3 linked regions of the Homo sapiens genome follow. The protein of the gene in region 1 interacts with the protein of each later gene in a pairwise test. Each region holds a gene or a part of one and is shown on either strand. Other genes may lie near its edges. The genes, in order: GARS1, IARS1 and KLF6.

Region 1 (7,854 bases):
CACTGCAACCTCTGCCTCCCAGGTTCAAGCGATTCTCTTGCCTCAGCCTCCTGAGTAGCTGGGATTACAGGCATGTGCCACCACGCCTGGCTAATTTTGTGTTTTTAGTAGAGACAGGGTTTCTCCATGTTGGTCAGGCTGATCTCGAACTCCCAACCTCAGGTGATCCGCCCACTTCAGCCTCCCAAAGTGCTGGGATTACAGGTGTGAGCGACTGCGCGCGGCCTGAGGTGGTGTTTTTAAATTTATTTTTATTTCTGCTTTTTGAGAAGTGGGGTTTTGACTCACTGGTGTAATTAAATGAAATGGCATTGCCAAAGTAGTACTGCCACACTAATTACTTAATACATTTTCTAATACGTGCTATGAAAATGTTTGCTACCGAGGAAAATATTTCTAAAACTTCATTTTAGGGCCTGTTCAACTTTGTTGTGAAAATGGTATATTTAGGACTTTTAGGATTTGTATCTAGAATTTCAGGATTGTTGGAAAACATAATTTCTTTCTTTGTAACAGACTGACTTACTTAAATTTATAGGTACTTGAGACCAGAAACTGCACAGGGGATTTTCTTGAATTTCAAACGACTTTTGGAGTTCAACCAAGGAAAGTTGCCTTTTGCTGCTGCCCAGATTGGAAATTCTTTTAGAAATGAGATCTCCCCTCGATCTGGACTGATCAGAGTCAGGTACTGCTCAGGTTACTCTTACAAATTAGTGAATGACCTTGGCATTGCATTGAAAATGAAAGCTTGCTGTTTTGAAGCAATTCTGCTTCATAATCCTGATTATGAATTTATTTTTGTTTTCTCCAAAAATCATGTTTTACATTTGGAATCTCTAAATGTAATCTCCAGGATGACAGGCAGTTTTGAGTGACAAAAGTGAACTTGAAGGGAAAGGAAGGAGGGTGGAGACTGTCTTAAGAGTCTCACCTGCTCCAAAATTACCTTTTTCCTTGTTCATCGTATATTTTGAGGATGGTAATATCTTGATTGTCTAAACCAAGGCAATACTGGCAATGGTGATGTGTATAAAAGGGTGGGGTCGGGTGGGGGTAGGGTGAAAGTTGTGGCAGGAGGATTGTTCTAGATATCTAGGGCAGACAACATTGCTGAAGTTGGGGTGAGGATGTATCAGTAACCAACTGGAGTTCTGGAAACAACCTCCGTCCAGGTATTTGGGGGGCCTATATGACAGAAAGGCCAGCAAGCAAGCTTACCCTCATCACTCACTTGGCCTCTATTCAAATAGCCTACTTTTGTCTGATCTATCCAGGGATGTGTGGGAAGGCATATTGGGGCTGGTGAGTTCTATATTTCTTTAGAAATTTATTATGACTCAGCTGTTTATGACTTAAGTTTTTTGTGATTTCTATACGTTATTCCTGGTATCATCTCTTAGAGTAATACATTCCATATAAAATACGAGGTGTAGCTAAACATAACTTTCTAAGGCCCCAAAGTGTTTTCCCAGCCCCAGCGCCCACCCATTTCCTGTCTTCTCTTCTTACTCACTGTAATTACAGACTTGGGTCATAACATAGCCCAGTCACTGACTCTGGATCAAAGCATCCACAGCACCTGCCTCATCTTGTTAGTTCCCATGATGCCATCTGGGAGAAGATGCCTATGTTCTGCGCAAACTGTATCTCTAGGCCCTACAGGTTTACGGTTTAGGAAGGAGGGACTTACAGAGGAAAGAATGTGCCCAACTTAGAGAAAGTTGGGGGAATGACCCCTCTGAGCTTTCATGTAAAAAGAGGAGGTCATCAGAAACTTTAGCCAGGTATGATGGCAATGACAAATTTGTCAGATTTGAGTCTTTGTTTTATTTCCCAGTGTCTGAGTGTTTTTGTTTTTTTGTTTTTCACCGTTTCAATATCTAGCAAGTATGCCTTCCCAAACTGAGGAAGCTGCGTAAGGCTGACCTTGTCTGAAGCCAGTGTTACGAAGAGGGTTTACACAGAGTAGCTATGGGAAGATTATTGAGAAGGACTGAGAAGTAAGGCAGTGTCTGGGGCCTGTGCAGTAAAAAAGTGGTGAGTAGGGAAACCAGCTTGGAACTTGGGAGTGATCCCAGGGGTTAACTGGTAGAAAGGCTCTGGGGCTTCTCAACAGTGGATTCTTTGGTCATTTTCACTTCAAAGTGTCATGTCTGAATTCTGGCTAGTTTTGTTATGTCCCTTGCAAGTTCCTGACCAGAAGTCCACTAGTTTTTTCATGAGTCAGCATCCTCCTGGCTTTTGTTCCATGGTAGGACTAGGATTGGTTTATTTAGTGTTCTGATTCTTCTTGATGGCAGAGTTCTCTGGTGATTAATCTTTGCATAGCTGTATTTCCTTTTGTCCTTTTGTTAGTTTAGAGGTATTAGATTGTTCATATGAAGATTTTTCTAAAATTTTATTTTATTTTGATTGACTTATCTGTCTTCCTAGCCTGTGTGTATTTTAGTTCTCTACAGTTTCAGGTACAGTTGCTGAACTGAGATACAGTTACTCAGAATTCTGATGATTCCTGCCTCCTATCTATGAGCTGAGATTATTGATGAGTAAATTTTGTATGATTTGTATGATTTCAAGTCACACAGTGTGGTGCTTTGATATGCTTATACATTGTGAAATGATTACCACAGTCAAGCTAATTAACATAATTATCACCTCACATAGTTACTTTTTTTTTTTTTAGTGGTGAGATCTACTTAACATCTACTCTTTGAGCGGATTTCAGGTATACAGTGAATCATTAACTATAGACACAGTGCTGAGATTTGTGACAGAACAGATGGAAAGACTTTGGCAGCAGCATTTTGGAGATTCTAGGCAGGGCCCGTAATTTATCCTGTCCCACATTGTAGATGTTCAGTTGCTGTCAGCCCAATTATAAGCTATGTGAGGACAAACACCATGTTTGTTTCTCTCACATTTATATGGGCACAGAAGATGTTTCCTAGTTGTTGAAAGACAACTAAAACATAGGTGCAGCAGGACCAAATAAGAGACACTATTAAAAAATAAAATTTAAAAATTAAACCTCTTGGCCGGGCGCAGTGGCTCACGCCTGTAATCCCAGCACTTTGGGAGGCAGAGGCGGGCGGATCATGAGGTTCAGGAGATTGAGGCCATCCTGGCTAACACAGTGAAACCCTGCCTCTACTAAAAATACAAAAAATTAGCCGGGCGTGGTGGCGGGCGCCTGTAGTCCCAGCTACTCGGGAGGCTGAGGCAGGAGAATGGCGTGAACCCGGGAGGCGGAGCTTGCAGTGAGCCGAGATCGCGCCACTGCACTCCAGCCTGGGCGAGCGAGACTCCGTCTCAAAAAAAAAAAAAAAAAAATTAAACCTCTTTTGCAGTGTATTTCATGTATTTTTAGGATCCATTTAAGCAATTTTACATTACTCGTAAAACATCTGAGATAATCATGGAAGCACACCAGAAAATGTGATTTTTCTTGAAAGAAGAGAGATTGATTTTGACTCATAAAATTAACTTGAAACACTTCTCCCGCAAATAGCTACTAAATTGCATTCAGAGAAATCTCTTTGGGAAACCATTACTATGTGCACTTCATCGTTAGGTAATTAGCTTGATGTTAGCTTGTTCAATTCATGCCTTATATCCTTTGCCTTGAATAACACTTTATTTAAGAAGCTCTTGCTCCAAAGAAACCAACTGTATGATGCCATTATCAGTCATTTACTTTTTTGTAGCAGTAAAAAAGAAGAAATCAAACTGCTATGAAAGCTAAAGAACCATTTCATTTCGCTTTTAATTTCCCATTCTTTGAAATGGGATGAAGAAACTTCATTTAGTGTATACTTATAAAGACTTGCTAATGCTTTAAGGAAAACCATTTTATCTGCATGTCACTATTCAATATCTTATTTCTTATTTTTCATGTGATTTTTGCGTATGTTTTCCTAATTTAAAAAACTATATTAATCTGCCTTTAACAAGTTATTTTCAGTTAAAAGTAATAATCTTTTTGGATGTAGCTGGAGGGAAGGAATTAATACTTCAGAGAAGTTAGATCATGTTTATTTTAAATAGTGAGTAATAAAATTTTCATTAATGTGTTTAAAAATAACCTTCACATGTACCCCATAAATTTGTACAAATATAATACATCAAAAAAATAAAAATAACAACTACCCAGACAAATTTAATTCAAAATTTTTTTGGCCATTCCCTTAGGAAACCAACTTTCTGTTTAGTGAAAAAGACCACTATAGTATGGAGCCTTTATCACTAGAATGCAGTTGAAAATAGAGGCCTTGTTTTTTGTTTGTTTGTTTTTTGTAGTTAAATATGCAGGTTTATCGCTTACGTTTTTGCTTTCAGAGAATTCACAATGGCAGAAATTGAGCACTTTGTAGATCCCAGTGAGAAAGACCACCCCAAGTTCCAGAATGTGGCAGACCTTCACCTTTATTTGTATTCAGCAAAAGCCCAGGTCAGCGGACAGTCCGCTCGGAAAATGCGCCTGGGAGATGCTGTTGAACAGGTAGGATTCTGGAGGTAACTTAACTTAGATTGTGCCTGTTCAGGGTTTGCAGCAATTAGCAAATTCTATGTGTTCTGGGTGACAAGATATTTTATTTTGGCAGTCATTTGCTTTTTTACAGTACTTGGTTTTGTACAGAATTTGTTATACAGTATTATTATAGTAAGAGAAAAATCACCTGAACATCTCAATTTGTGGGCCTTGGGGCTAGCATGAAAAAAAATGTTTAGCAGAGCACTTGGAAAATAGATCTTGGTTTGCATTGTGCCTCACCAATCTGACTCAACAGTATGTACTACTTTGGGGGAGACAGCATTGGACCCACAGAAAGCAAGCCATCTGGGTTTCAGACTCTTCTGTATTACCCATAGCAGTGGAATAAGGCCTTGCATATAAGCACTTTGTAAATATTTGCCTGGAGAAGTGAGTGCGTGAAAACTTGCCAACAGTAGCTGCTGTCCACTAGTGGAATGAGTTGCCTCAGGGAGCAGTGAGCTTCCTGGCCCTGAAAATACTCCTGGCAAGGTTGGACGATAGCTTGTCAGCCACTTTGCAGAGAAGACCTCTGCAGTGTATGGAGATGGGGCTAGATGTTTTCTAAGGTCCTTGCAAACACTAAAATGATTACGTGTACTCTACGGGGTTCACAAATTTCAGTGGGTAAGGATACATTAAAATCCCCTCAACGTGTCATTACTTTGGTTAATTCAGAGGGGAATGTCTTTGCCATTCTTTAGTGTCAATTATGAATATTGTTTTTAGTACTGTAGATTTAGAGGTATGAGGTACTGGGCTGAATTTTTGCTGACCCAGTAAGTATGTTGGACAGATTTTGAATAACTCCATTATCATCATCTTGACATTAACCCATTAAAAAATAACCAAGATCTCATTCTGAGTATTTGAAATTGTTTTGAAAGCAAGATAAAATAGTTTGTGTTGGGTGTCAAATATTTTTCAGTAGAGTGAGTCAATGGAAACCGATATCTTGGCTTTGAAGAGTATTAATGTGTGTTTTCTTTTCTTCCTCCATGCTTGCTTATTGGTTGGTTTAGGGTGTGATTAATAACACAGTATTAGGCTATTTCATTGGCCGCATCTACCTCTACCTCACGAAGGTTGGAATATCTCCAGATAAACTCCGCTTCCGGCAGCACATGGAGAATGAGATGGCCCATTATGCCTGTGACTGTTGGGATGCAGAATCCAAAACATCCTACGTAAGTGGAGTGCTGTTTACCATGTGATTTTCACATTGTTAACTTAGAAGCACAGGTACCAAATGAATTTTTGTGCACTTTATGTCACAGAGGAACAAAGGGAAAAGAAAAGAGATCTTTTCCTGAGCAAAACAGAAAAAGCAGTTGCCTCCTGCCTTTTTATAAGTGTCCTAAGGAGCTCGTTGTAGTCTTAGATAGCTGAGAGACAGAGTTAGTGTATGATGGGACAGTGCGGATGTGTACACTGCTGTACAGTGTATTGGCAGCATTACTGGCAATATCCTGGAGTGGATCTAAGACACATTGGCCTCTCCTTCCTGGCAAGAGTCCCAGCAAACATTGGAAATGGTGGAGAGGTTGAATAAAGAAAGTCATAGTGCTCTTAGCTCAATGAGCTATGTAGTAGCTTTGGGGAATATACTAGTTGATTCTGATCTCTGGCTTAAGAACTACCTTCCTCAAATGTTATGTATTTAACTCAAAATTCACAGACGATCTCCAGGTACCCTCCTGCCCCTGTGCCCTGTCACCCCTCCAGCCTCCACCACCAAACATGAACATCAGTATTGAAGCGGAGGGACGAAAGGCATTTGCATATAGGAGATGCTGTCTATATTGGTGGCAGGAGGAAATGTGGCATCTAAAACAAGGCTGAGAGTCTTTTGGCATTTCTCTTATTGGGTGTTAGAGAGGCTTCCTCGCCTACATAGAAAGAGACTTTAGTCCAGGGGTCACTGGTTCCAGTATACCCTTGGTTCAGTTTTTACTTTTCAGAATGGCTTTCTTTTTATGGATTTTTAAAAATTAAAAATCAAAATTAGTCATATTTTAAAAAGTAATGACTACTTTTTTTAAAACAAAAAGGAAAAAATAATTCTGAAGACTATTATGTAGAAAATTAAACTTCCAGTTATATGCCTCTCCCCAGGTGTTTTATGTCTCTTCTCTGTATTGAGCAAACATTTTCTATAAAGGACCAGATGGTAAATATTTTTAGCTTTATGAGTCTCTGTCACATAACTTTGTTGTTTTTTACAGCTTGTAAAAAACAGCTTTTAAAAAATGTCCAAACTGGCTGGGTGTGGTGGCTCATGCTTGTAATCCTAGCACTTTGGGAGGCCGAGGTGGGAAGATTGCTTGAGCTCAGAAATTTGAGACCAGCCTGGGCAACATAGCAAGACCCTGTCTCTACAAAAAATACAAAAATTAGCCAGGTGTGATAGCACGCCCCTGTAGTTTCAGCTACTTGGGAGGCTGAGGTGGGAAGATCACATGAGCCCGGGAGGTTGAGGCTGTAGTGAGCCATGATTGCACCACTGAACTCAAGCCTGGGTGACAGAGTGAGGCCCTGTCTCAAACAAACAGACGAAAAAAGATCATGCTTAGCTCCATGGTCTTGGGTATGTCTGCCTTCTCTAGATGATTTTTCTACGTGTTCTAACACATGCATGCATAAATGCATAATAATATGCATATGTTTATAAATGGCTATTAATGATGTTGTTTTTAATATATTCTTTTTCCCTTGTGGAATTAGAAAGAATTACTGTAATCTGTTAGGATTTTCTTAGCAAGCTTGCTTGACATATGTCAAAATGATAATAGTAATTATTTTTAGGATTATGGGTGATCATTAATTTCTTTACACTTTTTAGATTTTCTGGGACTTCTTTTTATTTTCAGATCAAACCAATAAAATGTTTTTCCTTTTGTATGAGAAAAGATTATTACTTTTCTTTTTGTTTCATACCCAGCTCCTTCTCTTAGTTTGCTCTGATTCTGATTTCAGATTAAACCAGATGTTGTTCTTGCTGTCTCAGTTAAGTAATTTGCTTAAGTCTCACAGCCAGTGAGTGGTGAGGCTGGGATATAAACCTGGCTGTCTGACACCAGACTCATGCTCTTAACAGTTATGCTGTACTGCTTTATAAACCCCACTGGATGCCTGCTCGTCCTTATCTAAGTGCCATTGTGAGGGTTAGGGATCAGAAAATGGAAAGTCACTGGAAAACAGGGCTAAATGAAACAAGAAGCTCCAGAGTCCCAGAGGCTCTTAAGGAGAGGGGAGAACTCCCTTAGAGAGTTTAATACTTTTTGTGTACTTTATATATTTTTTTAATAAAAAAATTTACC
Region 2 (8,217 bases), on another chromosome or scaffold:
CAACCTGCGTATGGTGAGTAATTGTTTCTCCATATTATTTCCTAAAATAGACATGTTACCTATCTAGAATTACAGTCCTGGAAGGGAACTCATGAATGGTATAGGTGAGGAGACTGCAGACTGGCTCAATTGAGTGACTGGTCTCAGAATCCAGCCAAGCCTATTAAGTAACACGAAAGCATCAGATTTTTAAAGACTGAATTATAGTTCCCATTATAAACAGTTAATGCCAAAAATGCCAATATCCCCTCTTCATTTCAAAAGAGCACTTTCAAAATAGGTTTCCACAGCCCTGACAGTGAGAATAACCTGTTTTACTTCTATCTACTGAACATCTTAAAAACAATTTGTTTATTGCTAACCAAGTCTTTTTTTTTTCCTAGGATTGTCGAAAGAAACATAAAGACGCAAAAAGGAAAATGAAACCAAAATAATAAATGTCAGCTGGTTTTGATACTGAATGTGAACAAGGCTCACCTAAGGAAACTGACCCAGAAAACAGTTTTAGCTGACAAAGAAGAAATTTCAGAGTGAAGGAATTTTAAAAATCTGGCTGACGGAATATCATTCTGGTTGCCATCTTTTTCTGTGGAACTCCTCTGCATTTCTTCCTAAGTAATTACTTCAAAAATTAAATTCAACTTCTTATAAAGGAAGAACAAGATAGTCCTTGAAAATACTTTTTGTATATAATCTCTTTGCCCTCTATCCTGAGTAACTAATGGACATCTTCTCATGCAAGGTTTATATGAAGCCTTTTTAAATAAATGAGTCAAAGCACTTGTATTTTCCAGCCTAGGCTTTGTGTGAATTATAGGCTATTTGAAATTTTATTTCTGATTATGTCAAATACACCTTCCATTTTGTCATTTTTGTTTAAACTGATAAATTACAAGTCAACATTGAGTTTTATACTTGTGTTTTGGTGAATGGTTAACTGAAATATAGGACATTTCAGACCAACATCATATAAGAGTTCTGTGAGGACCAGGAGAGGAAGCCAAATACAGTTATCTTGTCATTGCCTCTAGGAATTAAGGAACAACATCTAGATGTACACCAATCCCAAAATTCTAGTTAGACTAAAAGCTTATGAAAAATACCAAGTGCCTGAAAGATAGGTAGTCACAATTAGGAGTCAGGACCCTGAGCCCAAATAGGGAAACAGATTTAACATTACATTAAATAAACCAACCTGCCTAGATTTCAAGACATACGTCTCCTATCAAAATGGGCTCTGTATGAAATAGTATTACATAGGCCGGGCGTGATGGCGCACACCTGTAATCTCAGTACTTTGGGAGGCCAAGGCGGGCGGATCATGAGGAGGTCAGGATTTCAAGACCAGCCTGGCCAACATGGTGAAACCCCATCTCTACTAAAAATGCAAAAATTAGCTGGGTGTGGTGGCTCACACCTGTAATCCCAGCTGCTAGGGAGGCTGATACAGGAGAATCACTTGAACCCAGGAGGCAGAGGTTGCAGTGCTGAGATCATGTTGCTGCACTCCAGCCTGGGTAACAGAGTGAGACTCCATCTTAAAAAAAAAAAAAAAAAGAAATAGTATTATATAGTTCCAAGGGACTATCATTAAGCCATGATGTGTGTACCTAAAATTAGTATTTATTGATTTACCTATGCTGAATATAAACTCTTAACTGTTGGGATTTCATCTGGTGTGTTAACCATTATGACCCTAGGGCTTATGCTCTATGTTTTTTTAGTAAGGGTCCAAGGAACTAAATAACTTGAAGAGTAATTCTGGATTCCTAGGTTTCCAAAACTTCAGACTTCAAGGAGAGTGTGGACAACTAAGCAGCAGGATAAATAATTCACACTTTCTACCTTCTCTTGATGTAGATCACATTTGTACCTTATTTTCTATTGCTGCATAGCAAATCATCTCAGTAACAATCATTTATTTTATGCACAAATACTGCAATTTGGTCAACACTCACTAGGGACTGCTGATCTGTGCTGTGTGCTTTCACTGGGGTGGTTCAGCTAGGGCTACGGGATCTGTTTCTAAGATGGCCCACTCAGTGCCTGTTCATGGGCTTCCTTACAGCATAGCAAAAAAGCTCTAGGAGCAAGTGTTCTCAGAGGCAGGAAGCAGATGCTGCCTGTCTCTTAAGGCCTGGCCCAGAAACCGGCTCAGTCACTTCACTGTATTCTACAGGTTTAAACTGACACACAGCCCAACCAGACTGAAAGGGAGGGGACACAGATCCTCACTTCTTAGTGGGAGGAGTGTCAGAATGTGTGGCCGTAATTTAAATCCGGCACATGTTTCACAAGCAGACAAATAAGTAACATCAAGTAGCCTTGCCCACCCCCCAGTTCCTGCTCCCCAGATGAAACCACCTTCAGCAATTTAATTTCTCTAGTATTTACCTCCATGTTTCTACCTAACATGCTTATGCTCTGATTTCTTGGTTTTTCACTTCCAGACACTACATATTCTGAAAAGGTGAAAAAATTATTCACCTCTTCAGTCCAAGTAATATATTTTGACTACAGTTAACTTTTTTGCTGGAATTTTTTCATTTGCTTAACTTTTTCTAGACTTAGTCTTCCCATACCTTCCAACTGTGGGACATGATGAGGTTTCTCTTCAAATAGCCTGATCAATCCTTTATTCTTTAATTCACAGTGCCCCCCTCTTCCCTTTTTCTCCTCTTTCCTTTCTGCCTTTGTTACATGCCTAGACAGGCCACAGTACCAGGCGTTATCAGTACCAGCTCGTATTCCTTATCCGAAGAGAAGACTAGCTCTCTAGCTCATTACAGACAGCCCTTCCCCCTTTCCCCTCTCTCTTACGTGCCCACCTTATCTAAAGAAAGTTAAAATGTTTAGCCAACTGTGGTTATTTTAGATTGTGAGGCCCAACTCCGGCCAATGGAGAAAGGGTACAGGGGCAGGGTTTGTGTCAGGGATAAAGGTTCTCGTGCCCCTTTGTTCTGGTGTGCTCTCATGGTGACTGGCCAAGGAGAAGCACCCCTCTGCGCAGAAGTAAAATTGCTTTGCTGAAAATCCTTTGTTTGAATGTTCAATTTCCTTAGGATTTTGAGCATTATTTCCAACACAACAGTACTATTAATATAAATGTTTCTCAATCAAATTTTTAAATAATTAGACTTGGCCTACCTCACCTTTGTCCAGGAGCCCTCTGTCTGGCTCTATCTGGGCTCTCTGGATAGGTGACAAAAATGAACTGAACAAGGTGGCAACGTGAGGAATGTGAAAACTTCAAACACATTCCAAATACTTTCAGTTAATTAACAAGATTTGCAGCTATTAAATTATGTACGTTATGTGAGTATAGTCAGAACACTGAGTTACCCATGATGGAGGACATGAAACCACTTTAATCCTTCACACAGGGCCAAGACGGTAAGTAAAGTTAAATATATGCTGAACAGACTATCAAAATGTTCCTAAACTTAATAAGAAACTGCATTCTACCTATTCTAGGCCAGATAAATTTTTTATATCCCTCTAACGGATACAATAGGCAGCTACGGAACTACTCCCAATTTGGCAAGATCCAGAATTTCCTTTAGAGGCTCTGGGGCCAAAGCCCGAGGCCTACTGCCCTTTGCAAGGCTCCAGATTTTAACCAGCAGATCAGTAAGGTACCAAGCCGACTCATAGCAATGATAATAAGTATGCAGGCCGGGTGCAGTGGCTCATGCCTGTAATCCCAACAGTTAAGGAGGCTAAGGCAAGCAGATCGCTTGAGCCCACGAGTTTGACAGCAGCCTAGGCAACATAGCAAGACCCCGTTGCTACAGAAAATACAAAAATTAGCCGGGCGTGGTGGCGCTAGCCTGTAGTCCCAGCTACTTGGCCAGGGATGAGGTGCGAGGATCATCTGATCCGGGGAGGTTGAGGCTGCAGTGAGCCATGACCGTGCCACTGCACTCCAGCCTGGGCGACAGAATGAGACCGCTTCTCAAAAAAAGAAAAAAAAATCGTTTGTGCAATGTTTTCATTACCGGAAACATTTTAAGTAAAATACAATAAAACTTTTAAATCTGGTTGTCAGACCCTTCCTTCCCTTTTGTTATTATCGTTTCACGTAGCCATTTATGATAGGAGAAGCGGCTTTGGGGTCGGCGGCTCAGGGCCCAAAAGTATAATTATTAAAGCCACCTCTCCGGAAGTTGCTGTTTGTCGTTATCAATTTAGGTACGAAGTGTCCAGTCAGATAAATACTGACAAAAGCAAACAAGATGAAGAACATGAGCCCCGACCTCGGCGCCCCTTCCCAGTGGGCCGTCACCTACCCGGAGGTGCCCACAACCCGAGTGAGACCTCGGTCTACACTACTGCAACGGATACAAGCAGCACGCACAGCGCCGCCCTCAGCGCTGGTTCGTTTTCCACGTGGAGGCGCAAAACCAGCAAGCACCACTGTCGCACCATCCGAGCCAGTGGGCGCAATCATGTCCGGCGCGACCAATCGGCGCCTGGCTTGTTGGCAGGTGTCAGGCAGCGCGCACTGATTGGCCGGTGCGGAGCCTGTCTCCTTCACTGGATCCCGCATTTTCAGCGCGTTGCATCACCTCCGTGCGCCCGGTTGCAGCGTGGACGCCGGATGAGTTGCTTTTAGGCTTGCTGGCCCGCGGGGCTGTCCAGGCACGCGAGGCCCCTCAGGTACGCCCTCTCTTCCCTGCAGGATCCGGCCCTCAAAGACGAGGGTCACGCACGCGTTACAACCCCGAAACAGTAGCACAAGATTTAATTTTTAAAAGAGCGTGTTTCTTCGGGGCTTGCCGTTCGTTCGTTTCCAGCCTCAGGAATTTATGGTCGCCTTTTTGAATGAGGTAGTGTTTGAAATGAGTAAAATCTTTTTAAAATGATATACATAGTATAAATTGATATAGCTGTGACTTTATGTATAGGCAATACGTATTTTTATATGTCTTAATTTATTACCTTCAATGGCTGCGAGATACTTATTTTATTGATGTACCGTAATTTACTTCAGTCACCATGAATATTTAGATTGTTTTCAGTTATTTGCCTGGAGAAACAATTATTCGGTGAATGTCATTGTATACACATTTTGTACATTTGCATGAGTATACCTGTGGAGTCTATGTTAATAGGATATAACTAAATTGAGGAAACGTTTGAGACGGTCCCACTTTCAGGTTACATTTGACTTAATAGATTATGAAGACCTGAGAATAAAAGGAGAAACAGAAATGGATTTAGAGGAGAATGAAAAGGGGGAACAGAAATAGGCTTATAGGTAGGATCCACATGACTTGATGATTAATTGGTTGTGTGTATCTTCTGAGTAGTGTCAGGGGTGACTCAAAAATGTCATGCCTAAGTAATGGGAAGAATATTGGAACCACTAATACAGTAGTTTAAAAGGGAAGCAATTCTGGAAGGAATTATGAAATTTTAAACAAAACATGGTTTTAGTGTGCGTTTCTAAAATATATTGAGGCAAAATAATATGAAGTAATGTGAATAATATGTAGTTAATATCAGGGAGGGTGGTCTCGAAATTGCTGAACGGGAAGTTGAGGTTAAGGTGACCTGAAGGAGTTGTGGAGCAGCGAAGAGTCAAGGGCCTGGATTATAATAAGAGGGAAGCAAAGGGGATGGCATCCCTCTGCACAACAAGGTTGTTGTGCAAGGTTAACCTGCTCTGTCCCTGCCCTGTGGTTGCTGGATGCTGTTGTGCATGGACAGCTCTCCAGTGGATTCGATGGGCCATAGCAATCCTGTGATTTATGCATGGAGGCTGCTTCTCCTCAGCAGCTGCCATAGCCCGGTCGCTGGTACATGATTCTTCCTGAATAGTCAATGCTGTTATACTGAGTGTTTATGCTTGACGTAATAATGCAGTGATTCTTAATCTTTGGGGAAAGTAGAGACTCCCTAAAAAACACAGTAAAAGCTGAATGAGCTGGCCAGGCATAGTGGCTCATGCCTGTAATCCCAGCCCTTTGGGAGCCCAGGGCAAGAGGATCGCTTTAGCCTAGGAGTTGAAGACCAGCCAGGGCAACATGGCAAAACCCTGTCTCTACAAACCACCCCCTCCCCACCAAAAAAAAAAAAAAAAAAAGCTGAGTGTGGTGGTGCACACCTGTAGTCCTAGCTACTTGGCGGGCTAAACTGGGAGGAACACCTGAACCCAGGGAGGTCAAGGCTGCAGTGAGCCATGATTGTGCCACTGCACTCCAGCCTAGGTGACAGAGTGAGCCACTGTCTCAAAAAAAAAAAAAAAAAAGGAATGATCCTCTTCTCAGAAAGCTTAAATCTTATTTTCTCAAAAATAAAAATTCAGATAGATATTCCTGAATAATTGTTAGAACAGTGCAAGAGTGGTGATGTTCAGACTTTGATGTGAATGCTCATCCCCTAGGGATCTTGTTAAAATGCAGGTTCTGACTCGTAGGTGCGAGGTGAGGCTGGTAAGTCTGCATCTCTAATAAGCTCCCATAGATGTGGGCCATAGTAGGACCAGCCTTGAAGAGATTAGAATGTGTTGGTATCTAAAGGTCTGTTAGTCTTCAGATAACAATCCCATAAGTTTCAGTTGGCCTCTGATAAGGTACACAATGAACCTAAATAAATCAGTAAATGCACAAACACTTATTTTGGTCCTTGAAAGGCTAGAGGTTATAATAAGAGTTGAAGATCTAAAATGCCTTAAACCTTCTGTTTAATACCTTTTAATGGCATACTGTGATCAGAAATAGCTATTTCAGTTAGTTAAACAGCCCAACTGTTCTTGTCCTGTTTTTTCTTAAATTAAACTCAGAGGCACTCACACATCTGAAAAATTAATGAGGGTAAAAGAAAATGAAAGATACTACTTGTCACAGACTTTTTTTTAAATGATAACTTGAATCAATAACTTGATTAGACTATGATGCTTTTGATGCTTTCAAAACTGTTTGAGGTATGTAGGTGTCTTTTCCTGTAGAGTTGATTACCCTGGTCTGTTGTGGTTCTTGAGTACTTAAGATTTTTTATCTTCTCTGTTGTTCCCTTATTAGCAATTTTATCCCCTTCTGATCTGATACTGACTTGGAAAGCTCGTCACCCACCTTGTTAGAATTGTTAAGTAAATATAAATAGACTTTGAGAAGGAAAGGTCTCAAGGGTGGCTCACTAGATACTTAAGTCATAGATTGATCAAGTATCTCTGCATGAGGTTATTAGCAAAACATTTAAAAAGACACTTTAAGACTTCTCTCATTAGGGACTAAACCAGAAAGGTATAGGGCTCATCCTTCATAAAAATCATGAATAAGCAATAAAAAGGGTAAAATGGAAAACTGGAATCTATATTTGAATGTGAGATTCTCATCTTTTTAGCTTTAAGATTTTTTAAGTTTTACCAGTTTTCCTCAAAGAGAAGATGAAGTTACTTCAAGAGAACTGATTTCTGTCATGTGAGTGTAGGTAAGAAAATTCTTAACTACTTTGAGATATTTTTCTTCAGATTATTAATGAGTTTTTTGCACCACTAGATAGAATTTCCAAGATTTTCCTGCTTACTTTTGGAAACATTGTCTCTACCATTACTGAATATTAAATAATAGCCATGTACCCCTCCCTCACACCATATACGAAAATAAAATTATTTGTGGCCTAAATGTAAGCGAAAAATCTATAACCTTGTTTAGGTAATGGTTTATTGATGACACCAAAAGCTCAAGCAGCAAAACCAAAAATTGACAAATTGGGCATCATTAAAATGAAAAATCTTTGTGCTTCAAAAAATGCCATCAAGAAAATAAAAAGACGGCCCACAGAACAGGAGAAATTTTTTATAAATCATATATCTGATAAAGGATTTGTATCCAGGATGTATACATAACCCTTAAAACCCAACCACAAAAAGAGCCCAATTAGAAAATAGGCAAAGGATAAATATCTATCCAACGTGGATACGCAAATGGCCAATAAGCATGTGGAAAGATGCTCAGCATCATTAGTCCTTAGGGAAATGCAAATCAAAACCACAAGATACTACTTAACATCTCCTAGAATGACTGTAATTCAAAGATGGACAATAAGATGTGTTGGGTAAGATCTGAAGAAATTAGAATCCTCATTCACTGCTGAGGGAATGTAAAATAGTACAGTCACTTTGGAAAAATTTTGGCATTTTCTCAAAAAGTTAAATACAGAATTATCATGTGACCCAGAAATTCTACTTCTAGCTACAAACCCAAGAGAAAT
Region 3 (8,084 bases), on another chromosome or scaffold:
TGAGCTCTATATTCTGTTATATTGATTTAACTGTATCAAAGCCAATGTCACACAATCACGTTCAATTTTGCTTTAAGTCTTGAAACACATAATATAAAACTTTCAACCTTCAGGACTGGTTTAGGTATAGCTCTCTTCAGCATTTCCTATACATTTTTAAATCAGCAGGACAACTTCAACAAAAAAGCCTGCTGAGATTTTGATGGGAAGTGTGTGGAATGCACAGACCACCTTGTAAAGAATGGGTATCTTAACCACACACGTGGTATAGCTTGTACCTGTGGATATTTCACAGGGAGCTCCTTCTGGAGGCCCTATTGTGAACTGAGCTTTACAGCTGTCCCATTTTACAATTATATTTTAAAAGAGGGCTACTAAAACAAAGGTCTTAGATAGACAGAAGTTCTCCCCGACCAATGCCCCAGAGGTATCCTGTCATTGTACTTATTACCTTGCCTATGTTGACAGTAAAATTCAACATCTTTTGAAAACTATCAATAGGGCATTTTCCTTCATTATTCTAAGCAAAAATGGTTAAAAAGTGAATCTACTACACCTTACATGTTATGTAAAAACGCTAGGGAGAGAAAAGGCAACTCACTATTTAGATAGAACTATCTGCAAATGAGATAATTGAGAAATGAACATCACAGGGCCAGGCGCAGTGGCTCATGCCTGTAATCAAGCAATTTGAGAGGCAGAGGCAGCCGATCACTTGAGGTCAGGAGTTCAAGAACAGCATGGCCAACATGGTAAAACCCCATCTCCACTAAAAACACAAAAATTAGCCAGGCGTGGTGGTGCATTCCTGGAATCCCAGCTACTTGGGAGGCTGAGGAAGGAGAATTGCTTGAACCCAGGAGGCAGACGTTGCAGTGAGCCAAGATTGTGCCACTACACTCTAGCCTGGGCAACAGAGGGAGACTCCATCTCAAAAAAAAAGGAACATTTTACACTTACATAGGCTCTATCATGTAAATATTCAGAAGTACTTTCTTAACAATTATATTTTGCACACCCAAAATAAACAGATGAAATAAAAGGGTAGTTTGCTCCAAAACAGGCAATATATTGGTACAGACACCAAAACCAAAACAAAACAGAACAACAAAATTGGCTTCTTGCCCCAAAATTGGAGCATTCTCTGTCAATATAATTAGGGGGCATTATTGGAATTATCCTCAGAACAGATTTGTAAGACTTCCCCCAAGAGCCCGTCTTGAATGATCTAGAACAGGAAGATCAAATGTACTCAATACCAACATGTTATCCCATTAATCTTTAAATTAAATTTAAAATTAGGTTTCAAATGTATACTTTTATTTTTGAGAGGCAACAAAGAGAGCTTCCTGGTATGAAATAAATGAGCACAGCCTGGAGGTCTAAGAGGAGAAGAAAAACAGTGGAGGAGGGCATGGAGGCCTAAGTGGGGACTGAGGAAGTAACAGCGGGGTGCCAGGGGGGTGAAGTGGCCCCCAGGAACGTCGAAAGGAGCCTACGACTGTCACCCAGAAGGGATCTTGACCTTTTGAAGATAGTGGCAGAGACAGGAGTGGCTCAAGGTGAGCAGAGAACAAGGGTCACGTCCAACAAATGGAGCTGATTATTTTCTCTCCAAGACTGCGAGAGTGAAAACAGAGCAGGGCTCTTCAGCGACCGGCAGGAGAAGGAAGCACCTGTGGGATTATTGGACAAGTCGAGGTCCAACTCTTGTCTCTGATTTGCTTTGTGGCCTGCAAAGTTGACTTCATTTTTCTGTCTGCATTCACTCATATGTTAAAAGAAGGGTGGGGGATTATAAAATAATTACCAAGAGCAAACTTACAAATGGCTAAATGGTGAATAAGTGAACACTGCCTTCAATTTATTGAATCACTACTATTTGCTACCAAGCAGGAATTTTAATCCATTAACTCTTCTGATTATACTAAACTCATTCTAATAGTCATTTTAATCTCCTATTTAAATAACGTGACCAGGGCCATGCGCACAGCATGGACAACTAAAGTGTAAAATCCATCATCTTTTTATATCCTGCCATACTTCCCCCTTCTGAATTAATCTGGCCCTCTACGATTCTTTGTTGCTCTTCTTAAAAAAATCAGGCGCAACTATTAGTGTTCAGATGCGATGCATATTCTTTGTCACATCAAAGAAAATGATATTTTTTCACCAACTGGTTACATGCTTACTCGTAATAAGGACTTTTGTTTTCAAACATCTACATACTCCTGGCAGCCCACCTCTCCCACACCGTAATAGGGATTTGTGCCTGTTTTGTAAATTTCTGTGTACCAATACCTGGCCATTCATAGGGTGTGAGTAATGTGTGTTCAATGGTCAATGAGCGCAGCAGGATGCCATAGGATCTATTCTATTTGAAATTTAGTGTTCATATGTACCCTGTTTTCAAATCTTTTTTTTTTCTGAAAATGACAATGGCCATTGTACTGTATCTGCATTATGACTAATCAGGTTCCCTCTTGTAAAAATAAACTATATAATCTTCATAGTGCCGGGCAAAGCATGTTAAGAGACAAGGATGAATTTAAGTTCTATAGGAATGTGGATTTATTAAAAAACATTAAGACAATAATTAATTGTCCCAAAGATAAAATGGGACACCCTCACCAGGACGCCCACACGCCTTGCAAAGACAGCCGTCCTGTCCTCCCTGGCCCAGACAGAGCCTTCCCCCTTCATCTCGGGCTCCCCCTGATCCAGCGTGCCTGGCCCTCAGCGGGGGACTTGCTCCACACTCCTGCTTACTTAGGAACTAGCGGGGCCAAGGTCACAAGCGCTAATTACTGAGAGAACCCTGCCCCCAACACAACGGCTGCCCAGATGCTCTCGGCTGCCAGTCACTGGGCCCCGGTCAATGGGCGCTTGGGCAAATCTGTGGATGGTTCAAAACAAAGCCATTTGCATTCCTGGAAACAGAGTTAAGGTGCAGGTCCCCAAGAAGGGCTGGTCCTGGCTCTCAGTTGCTGGGGTAAATGTGATGAACACGAGCCAAGAACACTGTCAATTCACTCTGCATAACCTTCACCGCCCACATACCGCAGGTACAAGACAAACCTCCTTTCTCCACTCCAGACTCACTAAGGTCCCCACCTAGTCTTACAGCCACATGCTTCTGCCGGACCCTCTAAAACTTAACATACAAAACCCTCTAATTTTTTTTTACATAGTCCATTCTTTCAAAATGTTTAATGTTCATTAAACTATTTTGAAACAAAAACTATAATACAGTTACAATTCAGTTTTCCATTTTGGATTTTAAAATGCTCTGGTTCGAGTCTCGACATTTTTCTTAAAAATGAACATTACGGTATATTTTAGGAGATAATTTATATGGAAAAAAACACACACACTAAATGTCGGCTTGCACCTAAATTGTTTACACGTTCATGGGAAAACCTAGCTGTTAACCTTGGTGAGGGCTAAGATCGCCCTCTACAAGATAAACACGTTTCTCCCAATTCCAAGGGGAGCCTGCGTGCTCCCCTCCCCCACTCTGGTGGCCCGGAGGACAGAGGGGACCCTAGGACTGGAGGGGGACGGAGACGGGCTCAGGGATGGAGGGGGACAGAGAGGGACCCGGAGGTGGAGGAGGACAGAGAGGGGTACCCCAAGGTTAGAGAACAGAGGATGACTAGGGGGATGTAGGGAAACAGAGCGGCGCAGAAGAGGACAGTTGGGGACGGGGCGGCCCCGGGCATAGAAGGGGACAGTTGGCGACCGGGAAGCCCCCGGCGTAGAAGGGGACAGTTGGGGACGGGGCGGCCTCGGGCATAGAAGGGGACGGGGGGGAACCGGGCGGCCCCGGGACCGGACGGCCGCCCGCAGGGTGAGCTGCCGGAACCGGGGCTCGCGCGGCGACAGGGCCCGGCTTGGTGACCGGGACGGGCGTGGGGTGGCGGGACCGGGCAGCGGGGAAGAGAGACCGGGACTGGGGACAGGCGACGCGGCCCGCCCCGGCTCTCCCAGCCCCGGCTCCCTTAGCTCCGGCCGCGGGCGCAGTGCAGGGCTCGGCCGCGCACCTCACAGCGCGGACTCCTCCGGCGCGCGGCCGCCCGCGCCTTATATACCCTGCTAAAAATAGCCTGCGAGGCCACTTTCCAATCAGAACGAGCAGAGTTCGAATTGAGCCAATGGTGCGGGCCGTGATGGAGAGTCTCGGTCACGCCAGGCGGGGCCGCTGTGTGTCGCCGCCTGCGATTGGCCGGAGCTGACATCATCGGCGCGCAGCCCCCGGGCCGGGAGCCACGGGATTGGGCCGCGCACGGGGCGGGCGCGGGGCGAGTCACGTGGGGGGAGGGGGAGTGGGGGGAGCCAGGCGGGGGCGGAGGGGGAGGCTGGCAGCGGAGCTTTGAATAGGGAAGTTTTGCAGGGGTTACGTTTGCAGTCAGTCCGGTGTTTGCAAATATTGTGTGGGCTCCGCGCGCTGCGGGCTGCGGGAGGGTCCGGCCGGGCGTCTCTGCGAGCCTGGAGTTTGCATGAAACTTTCACCTGCGCTCCGGGGAGACTTTCGGCTCCGGCTCCCACCGCGCGCCTCGCCGCCCTCGCGACCGCGGGCTCCGTCCAACCCGGCCCGACATGGACGTGCTCCCCATGTGCAGCATCTTCCAGGAGCTCCAGATCGTGCACGAGACCGGCTACTTCTCGGCGCTGCCGTCTCTGGAGGAGTACTGGCAACAGGTAAACGCAGCCGGCCGCGGTTCCCTGCGGGCGCCGGGGCGCGGGCCGGGTCGGCTGTTTGGGGTTCAGACCCGGTGCTCTCTGCGGTCCGCTGGGCCTGGGCCCCGCGCTGTCACCGGGGGAGCGGGCGCAGCGCCCCCGCCGATCGATCCTCCAGGCTGCGATCAGCGTCCGCCCAGGGAAGCCCCAACTCCCGGCACAGCCCGGCCGAGCCCCTGGCACGAGTTCGGAGCCTGTCCCCGCTCCAGACGCCACAGCTGGAGCTTGTCATGGGGACCAACTTGCTCTGCCTGCCAAGGTGTTTTTTTTTTGTTTGTTTGTTTTTTGTTGTTTTTTTTTAACGGATTTTGTTTTTGTTTTGTTTCTTGGTGCTTGTACTTAACAGTTTTTTAAAAAAATCACATTTTGCCCCCAGAACGTAGACCAGCTCTCTTTTATTTTTGTCTTTTTTAAACTGTAGACCATTTCCAATGTGTTTTCTGCTCTTTGGAATGCCTAACATTTCCCCTAGATCTGCCTTATTTGTCTTCCCTGCTTCTCTTGTTGACCAAGAAAAATAAAAATAAAACTGTGTACACCCCAGTGACTTGTCAGTCTTGTGACAATGAGCCCGTCCAAACTGCTTCAAGTCTTAGTTTGGAAAGAAGGACCTCGGTTTCCGACATTGTCGTAGAACTGGAATTTGGGGGCATTGGAAATTTAAGAAACTTACCAGGTCCCCGTGCTTATAGGTAGCATCGCCCGAGGGGAGAGAGACTGACACTCCTCCCATTGTCTCTCCAGCGATCGCAGGAGGGTTTACTGTTGTCTCCCTGCCCTGCTGTGCTGTTTGTTTTTCGTCACAAAGTGAATTGCCAGATCAAATAGAGGCTGTGGGTTTCCAAGCCTCGAAAGCTTTAAGGAAGATGAAATGCAGGGTGTTGCAACCTTCACACGCCTGCTTAATTGTTCACAGTCCTCTCCTGCCTTTTCCCCCTCCCCCTCCTGTTTTTTTCCTCCTCAAAGAAGCTGCTCCCTAGGACGTGATTGAAATTGATCTAAGTAGTTTCCTTCGGGCGTTTGGGATTTGGGCAAACGGCCAGACCTGGCTCTTGGTCGCCTTTGGAGGCTTTTAAACTCTCCGAGAGCTTCGTTCAGGTCCCGGGTGCTCATCAGCGTAATGGAGATTTTAAATTGGCCGGATTATTAAAGTTTAACAAGATCTCCATAAATGTGCTTTTCTTTTTTCTTTGTTAAATCAATAAAATACATCGCTGCTGCCTCTCTTCAGAACGCTGTAGTGTGCATTGTAACTCAGACGCCTGGTTTCGGGGGAAAGGGGAAAGCATGATTCTCCCGTGTGCTTGCTCCCACCGGCTGTGTGCGAGCCTGGGGAGGGGGAGGGATTGCCTGTGGCAGGAGAGAGGCACACTGCTAAGTCAGCCTGAGCCCCTGGGGTAGGCTGCGCTCAGGAAGGTCCCTGCCCGGAAAAATGACGTGCTCACCAGAGCCGTTTGGTGTAGAAACTGAAATCTGTAGAATTGCCAGTAGTATAGACAACCTTATATGGACATGCAGGCAGCTGATCCTCGTGAAAATCAGGGCAGACATAATTTAATCCTAAAATGTTTCCTACCATTTTTCTTTTCCAGTGGCTAGAAAGTTTGAAATGGTGGGGAGAGGGGATGCTGATCTCGGCAGTTGTAGCTTCTTGAAAGGTTGGTTGCGGGGCTGGGGAAGGGGTACTGTCCATGCCACACTGCATGTCCATTTGAGCTGGGTCCTTATTTGGCTGCTGATGAGAATTTCAAAAGGAAGTCTCCTTTGGCATTGCGTGAAAGAAATCAGAGTGATGACTCATGCAGTTGTACTCTTGGCCAGTAGATAAAGTTCTTGTTCATTGTGGGACTCCCAGCAGGGCCGTGGAGTAATTTCCCCTTGCACCCTTCACAATAGCAGATGGCCATGCTGGAATTATTTCTGCACTCCTGTTGTTGAAGTTCCTTGTTTTTCTCTGACCACTGTAGAAGTAATTAAAGTTCTGTGTCATGCAAGGGCCTGCACTTGGGAACGGCATTCTGTGAAAACATAGGCGGTCTGGGCTACACAGGAAATGGGTGGTTTTTCTGCAGCTCCATTCGATGCCCCTGAATACAGACAGCTGCTGTCTCCTCTCCCCCGAGTGTGGCCCTGTGTTGTCAGCCGTGTCCCCAAGGGGGTCCCTCAGAACACGCTGTGTGCCGTGCAGTCTTTCTGTCCTGTGTGGGTATCTGTGGAGTGTGAAGGGTGGATGGCTGGGGCTTTCCTTAAAACACATGGTTCTTGACAATGTCAGATAATCTGGTTGAACCTGTTGGGGAGGAGTATGTGTATGGGGCCGGTTCTCTTCCTCTGGTTTCATGAGAAACATCAACACTGGTAACTACAACAAAAAAACCGGCTTAGTGATCATCACTCATTGTGGCCCTTGGCCCAACATTGGGAAAGCCAGGAGAGGTTTCACCCTCCGACTTTTCCTCTGAATTCTTACCATTCTAGAAACAGATTTCCTCTAACTTCCGTAAGGACACGGATGCTTAATTACAAAAGGTTTTGCCCCTGTAGTGACCGGGCAGCAATGTTATCTGTCCTTCATTCTTGCATGTTTTTGGAAATTGCTTTTGCTTTTACTTTTGGTCGTCATGGCAATCACGTGCCTTCTCTGGTTCATTTTGCACAGACCTGCCTAGAGCTGGAACGTTACCTCCAGAGCGAGCCCTGCTATGTTTCAGCCTCAGAAATCAAATTTGACAGCCAGGAAGATCTGTGGACCAAAATCATTCTGGCTCGGGAGAAAAAGGAGGAATCCGAACTGAAGATATCTTCCAGTCCTCCAGAGGACACTCTCATCAGCCCGAGCTTTTGTTACAACTTAGAGACCAACAGCCTGAACTCAGATGTCAGCAGCGAATCCTCTGACAGCTCCGAGGAACTTTCTCCCACGGCCAAGTTTACCTCCGACCCCATTGGCGAAGTTTTGGTCAGCTCGGGAAAATTGAGCTCCTCTGTCACCTCCACGCCTCCATCTTCTCCGGAACTGAGCAGGGAACCTTCTCAACTGTGGGGTTGCGTGCCCGGGGAGCTGCCCTCGCCAGGGAAGGTGCGCAGCGGGACTTCGGGGAAGCCAGGTGACAAGGGAAATGGCGATGCCTCCCCCGACGGCAGGAGGAGGGTGCACCGGTGCCACTTTAACGGCTGCAGGAAAGTTTACACCAAAAGCTCCCACTTGAAAGCACACCAGCGGACGCACACAGGTCAGTGCCCACGCGGGCCCCGGAGGGCGGCCGCTGGTGGGCGCCACTGCATTGCACCAGCCCTGGAGGGAGCCGGGCCTGGCTGCACAGGATGTGGTCAGGGCAGACAAA

Evidence for each region.
Region 2: the proteins of GARS1 (region 1) and IARS1 interact in a two-hybrid assay, tested with the Homo sapiens proteins (one study listed by BioGRID).
Region 3: the proteins of GARS1 (region 1) and KLF6 interact in binary tests that used the Homo sapiens proteins (3 or more experiments, as listed by UniProt).

What each region holds. Positions count from the first base shown.
Region 1 is NC_000007.14:30,611,558-30,619,411, forward strand, and holds part of GARS1 (glycine--tRNA ligase isoform 1 precursor), read left to right. Parts: intron 1-538; coding exon 539-688; intron 689-4,338; coding exon 4,339-4,501; intron 4,502-5,556; coding exon 5,557-5,721; intron 5,722-7,854. UniProt on the Homo sapiens protein: Catalyzes the ATP-dependent ligation of glycine to the 3'-end of its cognate tRNA, via the formation of an aminoacyl-adenylate intermediate (Gly-AMP).
Region 2 is NC_000009.12:92,290,053-92,298,269, reverse strand, and holds the start of IARS1 (isoleucine--tRNA ligase, cytoplasmic), read left to right. Parts: upstream 1-4,572; 5' UTR 4,573-4,659; exon of another isoform or gene 4,660-4,829; intron 4,830-5,676; exon of another isoform or gene 5,677-5,812; intron 5,813-7,347; exon of another isoform or gene 7,348-7,434; intron 7,435-8,217. Other genes in the region: NOL8 (nucleolar protein 8), read left to right, coding at 1-13, 384-434. UniProt on the Homo sapiens protein: Catalyzes the specific attachment of an amino acid to its cognate tRNA in a 2 step reaction: the amino acid (AA) is first activated by ATP to form AA-AMP and then transferred to the acceptor end of the tRNA.
Region 3 is NC_000010.11:3,781,530-3,789,613, reverse strand, and holds the start of KLF6 (Krueppel-like factor 6), read left to right. Parts: upstream 1-4,404; 5' UTR 4,405-4,599; coding exon 4,600-4,701; intron 4,702-7,399; coding exon 7,400-7,973; intron 7,974-8,084.